2 separate regions of the Homo sapiens genome follow, and region 2 is reported to be linked to region 1. Evidence: microRNA targets listed by miRTarBase, many of them from high-throughput screens and not tested one by one. Region 1 holds a microRNA gene; the other region holds the end of a gene's coding sequence.
What was found. Region 1 holds the annotated microRNA hsa-miR-3664-5p (AACUCUGUCUUCACUCAUGAGU, at 889-910, shown strand). A microRNA usually pairs through its seed, bases 2 to 8, with sites in the 3' UTR of a target mRNA and lowers its output. Matches are read on the target gene's strand: a 7mer-m8 pairs with bases 2 to 8, a 7mer-A1 pairs with bases 2 to 7 and ends in A, and an 8mer does both.

Region 1 (3,395 bases):
AATGCATTTGAAAGGCAAAACTCATTGTTTAGTGTCTGAGAATAGCCTCTGAGTGCTGGGATGCCACGGTTGCTGTGGCAACGGCTCTTTGTTTTAGGGAACCACAAACATATCATTCTATAAACTGCAGGGCCCAAGCTGCAGGTTTCACCTTCCTGAGGGTCGCCACCCGGGAGGCAGAGGCACCAGGATGGACGTGGGAACTACCTCCGCTCTTCCTTTCTCACAGGTGCCCAGGATGTCTTTAGCTTTTGTAATGTTTGGGGCTGGGGGAGGTGGAGGTCATGAGTGTGGGGAGAGGGCAGACAGTGGATATGTGCTCCTCCTGCCCCGAGGAGCTGGGCTCTACAGGGCATCGTGGGGTCCCTTCCTCTTAGCAATCAATGCCATGTTCCACTGTGGCCCCAGACTCCAGCACCAAGCAAAGCAGCCCCCACGACCCTTAGGACAATGAGGGGTGAAAATTGCCACCCATCAGTTTTCAAGTGGTCAGTGTGGAGGAAAACAGGGACCCGCAGGTGGCCAGAACGTGGAGGAGATACACCAGGGAGCCGGAAGTAATGTGGTCCAGGGACCCATCTCTCATTCCACGTAGCTCACGGACCTGTGTGCCCCTGACTCTGGTCTGTGGGGGGCCCCTCTGTATGGGGGCCCCCTATTCCCTCCATCTGAGGGTCTCTCTTCCCTCCATCCAGCCACTTGGTCGTTTGCACCCACTGTGTCCACCAAGCGCTTCTAGGGAAGGGTCTTGTCCTTTTTTCTCCCCGTCCCGCCGAGCCTCCACCTCCAAGCCTGCATCCTACTTGTCTTTCCTCTTCATGCGTGTGGGGTTTTTTTCCCCTCCTTTCCACTGTGCACCCCGTCTCCTCTGTAAACTTGAAGGTAGGGAACTCTGTCTTCACTCATGAGTACCTTCCAACACGAGCTCTCAGGAGTAAAGACAGAGTTCCCTACCTTCAATGTGGATCTGCAAAAAGATCTGAAAAGCGAATGCCTTCTCCGTAGCTCGTTGGCAGTAGTACTTGACCTGAACTGATTTGAGGCTATTTATAGTTTTTATTTATCCTACTTAGCATGATTATTCATCCGTGCCCTGAAGGACTCCTCCCGCAATTGGCAATGGGACACTGCCCAGACCCACTGGCGGTGTGACGTAACAGGCCACACACGCATCATCCTACTGCTGCAGAAGCAGGCAGCGTGCACATGCCAAGGCACCTCTGGCTCTGGTGTTCAGGGATGTCGTCGTGGGGCTGTATTTGTTGAATGAACAAGAGTTCTTAATCCAAGAATAATGCTGGGTTTACCTTTCAAGTAGTTCAAAGGCTTCTTTCAAGACGGTGTTGTTATGGAGGATGGGATGCGTCTTGCCTTAAATATTAATAGAAATCGTATATGGAAATCTCAGACGGCTTCAAAGAGTCTCTCAGTCAAATTCAGATGGGGACTGTGCCTCTTTCCTGGCTGTCCCCTCCCAGCCCCCATGTGGCCACAGTTTGCTGTAAAACCCTGCAGGGCCCCTGAGTACCAGGTGTGTCTGGCCCGTGTTGCCTTTCAACATGAACTCTTTCTTGACTTTCTTCTCCATCAGGGATATGGTCATATTTATAATATTTGTCTCGACCTCACTTTCCTTTCTCTCCCTGCCCTGCTTGTTCAGCAAATGTGTTGGGGAATCCGCAGGGTCCCAGGCACAGCCTCTCCCTCCAGGGGCTCACAGGCTCCATGGCACACAGATGTGGCCTCAGCACGTGAAGGAGGCTCAGTGCCAGGCTATGTGGCTCATCTCAGAAGGTGGTGTGGCCCCAGGTTCTGTGGTTGCCCTTGCTCTGCTCTCTGCTCCCCACCCCCGCCCATCCTGCCCTGCTCCTATGGTGCCAGTGATCTTCGGGGCTGGTGGCTTGCAGAGCGCTCCCTGGACCTCCTCTTGGACCCTCAGACTCATCTCCTGCAGAGCCTGCCACCAGGCGAGCCCAGACCCCTGACTCCCCTTTGAAGTGTGTCCCTGCAAATGCATATGTTGAAGTATCACCCTGAGGATCTCAGAGTGTGACCTTGTTTAGAGGTAGGGTCTTTACAGAAGTCATCAGCTGAAAATGAGGTCATTAGATTGGGCCCTAATCCAGTAGGACTGATATTCTTATAAAAAGAGGAAATGGGACCGGGTGCAGTGGCTCATGCTTATAATCCCAGCACTTTGGGAGGCTGAGGCGGATGGATCACCTGAAGTCAGGAGTTCGAGACCAGCCTGGCCAACATGGTGAAACCCCGTCTCTACTAAAAATACAAAGATTAGCCGGGCGTGGTGGCGGGTGCCTGTAGTCCCAGCTACTTGGGTGGCTGAGGCAGGAGAATCACTTGAATCTGTGTGGGCGGAGGCTGCAGTGAGCCGAGATCGTGCCACTGCACTCCAGCCTGGGCGACACAGCAAGACTCCATCTCAAATAAATAAATGAATGAATGAATGAATGAAATGTGGCCACAGCCATGCACTCGGAGCAAACCTCACACAAAGATGAAGGCAGAGCTCTGGGTGATGCTTCTGTCAGTCAAGGAATGCCAAAGATTGCCTACAGGCCACTGGGAGCTGGAGAGACAGGCCTGGAACAGAGTCTCCCTGCAGTCCCCAGTGTGAACCCCCCCACTGCCAACACCTTGACCTCAGACTTCCAACCTCCAGAACCATGAGACAATTCATCCCTGTGGTTTCAGTCACCCAGGCTGTGGTTACAGGAGCTCCAGTGAACATACCCCATCTTTCCTGGCCAGCTGGCCCTTCCTCCTGGGCACCCCATCTCAGTTATGGCCCAGGAACTGAAAACCCAAAAACCTTCCTAGATCTTTCCTGGCGCTCACCTGCCCTTTTCCCATCTGTCCAGAACCAGCCCCTTCCACTTTTTCTATTTCCTGAATCTGCCCCTCCCTCCCCACTGGTTGGGCTCTCATTTTGGCCCAGATGGACTGCAGGAGGGGACGGCTCTGGGTCTCACCCCGGGTTCATTTCTCTCAGTCCCCTGGAACGAAGTGGAGCACACTCTGCCTGGGTGAGCCTCCAGCACTCAGATTCTGCTGCTGTGCTCATCCTCAAACCTCTTCCATAGTGCCCTGGGCCACACTCTCTTTATAAGGACACTAATTATTGGATTTAGGACCCTCCCTAATCCAGTATTACCTCGTCGCAACCTCACTGATCACATCTGCAAGGAGGCAATGACCCATTTCCAGTTAAGGCCCCATTCGTAGGTTCTGGGTGGACATGGATTTGGGGGGACACTCTTGTGGACTTTTGTGAGGGTTTCTGGGTGTGTGAGAAGGCAGAGCCTGGGGAGCTTCAGGCAGAGGGGAGGCATTCACATAATTGGTGGTGAGGTCCCTGCACTGACCCAGCGGCGACT
Region 2 (3,395 bases), not on the chromosome of region 1:
TGTGCCTGGTCAATTCCGGCTTTGGATGGCTTCTTAACACAGTGATGAGGGTGCAAATGAGTACCAGGAAGAAGTATTTAGTGGGATAAACATCTCCCGGCAACTGCCTCAGCACCTGGAGCCGGCTGGTCTTCCGGCTCATGAAGTCCCTGGCTCTTGGCCTTCCTTGGGGGTGTCCATTTGCAGTGAGCAGAGGTGCAAGGACATGTGGGGACAGAGAATAGCCATCTACAATCATGGAAAGCCTGGACCATGTGGTCTTGATTCTGGGGGCTGTCCCAGCTGCTCCCTGGGCAGGACTATCTCCTGGGCACCAGGTTTTAAGTGAGCTGGGAACTAGTGAGAGCACCAGCTGTTAAGCTTCTGGACAGAGTCCGTGTGAGCATCAGTCCTGAGACCTGCCCTGGAAGGGAGGCTAAGGAGAGAAGCAGCACAGTCCACAGGCAGCCTGCCTCAGGGCCGCTCTGCCTTCCGCTTTTTTTTTTTTTTTTTTTTTGAGACGGAGTCTCACTCTGTCGTCAGGCTGGAGTGCAGTGGTGTGATCTTGGCTCACTGCAACCCCCGCCTCCTGGGTTCAAGCGTTTCTCCTGTCTCAGCCTCCTGAGTAGCTGGGACTACAGGCGCGCACCACCATACCCGGCTAATGTTTGTTTTTTTTTGTATTTTTAGTAGAGACAGGGTTTTATCATGCTGTCTGACTGTCTCGATCTCTTGACTTTGTGTGACCTGTTCTCTGTCCTGCCTCGGCCTCCCAAAATGCTGGGATTATAGGCGTGAGCCACCATGCCTGGCCTGCCTTCTGAGTCTTAACCTCCTTGGTCACCATGTGGCGCTGCTTCCACCCACTGACGGTGTCCATGCACCTGCTCAGCAGTGGCCCGAGGAGCCCTGCAGACGCCCCAGCAGCCAGGGTTTCTCACCGTCCCCACCCCAGGACAAGGAGGCAAGTGTGGGGAGGCTGCTATCTCCAGGGCCACTAGAGCTGTGGGGCCACTCGAGGACCGAGGCTCCCGGCCGGCTTGGAAACAGATCCAGCACATGGAAATCAGACTGTGGGGTGGAGGCCTGCGATATAAAGGCCATCTTATTTCTTCTCCCACTTTTTGTGGGTGACTTCTTGGTATCCGGGGCTTTTCAGTGACAGCCGGGGCGACAGGCCAGGCTGAGCCTGTGGCTCCAGGGTCCAAAGAGAAAGGAGGGCAGAAATAAGAGAAGATGGCCTTTATTGCAGCACGAACTGAGGGGGACTGCATGTCCACAGCTCTCCAGGAGCTGCCAAAGGCGACGGGCCCGCCCTGCCCCTGCAACAGGCCCTCCAGGGGCTAGAGCATGGCTCCCCTCAGGAAGGGTAACGCGTGCTTGTAAACAAGGGCCCAGACAACACAGAGAGGAGAGGCAGCATCATCAGGTGCAGCTTTGCTACAAGAAAGATAGTTCTTAATTTCAAAGAGGAGACACCGCTACACCTAGCCCTGCCCTCCCATGCACTGGAAGGCTCTGGAAGTAGCTCTCGCCTGCCTGGGCAGTTAGGTCCACCCACTGCCCGTGAGCTGGGCCCAGGCACACTGCAGCCACACAAAAACGCTGGCAGCTGACTCCTAATTTCAGAAACACAATTAGAAAAGAACTGGAATTTTACATTTTTCTCCCATACATTAAAAAATAAGAAAAAGCCAACATTTTGACTGTAGACCCTGGTAGGTGGCATCTGACTTTAACCTGAAGTTCTCATTGGAATCCTTTTCTGTCTGGCGCTCCACCGCCCACAATCAGCCCCAGCCCCAGGCGCCCCTTGCCGAAGGATCCTGGCCCATCTCACACAAGGGCGGGACCCCGTGGAGTGCCCGGCGAGCAGGGCAACCACTGGGAAGACAGATACTGATTTCCCTGTTGGGGTCTGTGACCCTCAGCAAACGAAAAGGAAACGGTAACAAGACGGTGGCCTCCTGCCAGGACCTCAGCAGGAGGTTTGCTGGTGAAGGTTCTGGGTGAGCTGGAATGGGTGATAAGGCGGGCTTGCTGGGTGGTGGCCTCAGGCTGTTCCTGGGCCCCTGTCGCATAGAGCCCTGTGGGTGCAGTGTGGGGCCCCACAGCCGTCCCGGGGTCGTCCTGATGCATAAGAGCAGAGACCCCGGAAGAGAAACCCGCCTGCCCCGTGTGATACAGGGCTCCCAAACGCTTCCCGGTGGAACCCTGCTCCCGAGGACACCTTGTCTCGCTCCACGGAACCCTTCCCCCAGCACCCCCTGGAAACACAGCAGCCAGGAACAAATTCTCCATGCCAGGAACAAAGCCCTTGGCTAAACTGGAGACTCATCAGTGCACAGATGGTGGTGAGGGGTGAGGGCAGGGCGTGGGGTGGTGCTCAGCCCTGGGGACACCATCACTGTCCTGCTCTGACCCACAGGTGAGAGGAGGATGCTGTGCTCCCGGAGTGTGGCGCCGGGAGGATGGCTCGGCAGGACAGAGGCCTGGGGCTGAGGCTATGCCCAGGGCCGGTGTGGGGAGGGACATGGGGGCCTTTGCAGAAGCAGCTCAGAGAACTGAGGTTGGAATCCTGCCCCAAGCACAGGTTTTGGGGACAGCGAGTGCCTAGACAAGGCAGGTAACGTGGCAGCCACCGGGCTGGTCCAGAAACAAGGTGCTGAAGACGTCGTTGAAGAAGGTGGGGTGGTACCTGCAGGCTCGCTCACAGTCGGGGTTGAAGTTCACCTCCAGGATCTGCGGCTGCATCACCCGCCTTCCTGATGGCAAAGAGCGCAGCAGAGTGTGAAGGCTCGTTGGCCTCCACTCTGCAGGGACAGTGGCCTGGGGATCCAGCAAAGGCTGGGAGGCCATGAACCTGGGCCCTGATTCCCAGGGGATGAGCAGGACAAGGCCGGGCCTAGAACTTGGGTCTCTTGACTTTGCTGGGGAGGCCTGGCCTGACATCTGCTTCTCTAGGAGAGGCCAGGGCTGCCTCCAGCCCTAGGGATGACAGCCTGGCCCTTTAAGCTTGGATGTTCAGTTTAGTAAAAAAAAAAAAAAGTAGATATGCAGCAGCAGTGTACTGTGTGGGGGTCTGGCACAGGGAAGGCCAGCCAGGGTGGTGTGGGTTGGGGTCAGGGTGCCTTTCACACGGGTCTCCTGTCCTGTGAGCTCTCCCCCGACTCAGAGGCCCAACCCGCAGCCTTTCCCCTCCAGACTCTGCACCGCAGGCACTTCCTGTGGGCCAAGCCAGGGCTTTCCCCAACCCAGATTCCTGGCTGATTCAAGCCAGAGGACAGCCTGGGGCAGCTGCCTGCCTTCTCCAGGCTGTGGCTGGCTGGCGGAGGGGGCGCCTGCTGGTTTGGATCAGGAGATGGGGAGCCCCTCTTACCATCTGGGCCGTTGTCCCACTTCAGCATGAGGTCGAC

Region 2: the mRNA of TTLL12 is a reported target of hsa-miR-3664-5p. The part of its 3' UTR that is shown has no 7-base or 8-base seed match.

What each region holds. Positions count from the first base shown.
Region 1 is chr11:70,869,842-70,873,236 of GRCh38, reverse strand. It overlaps MIR3664 (microRNA 3664), which reads left to right and starts at 869; the gene lies at 869-967. All of the region lies in intron 11 of SHANK2 (SH3 and multiple ankyrin repeat domains 2), which reads left to right.
Region 2 is chr22:43,165,416-43,168,810 of GRCh38, forward strand. It overlaps TTLL12 (tubulin tyrosine ligase like 12), which reads right to left. Exons shown (of 14, transcript NM_015140.4): 13 at 3,359-3,395; 14 at 1,207-2,744. The coding sequence ends at 2,593. Among named protein-coding and RNA genes, the nearest start is that of TSPO, 16 kb to the left of the region's middle. RefSeq lists an enhancer at 2,793-3,395.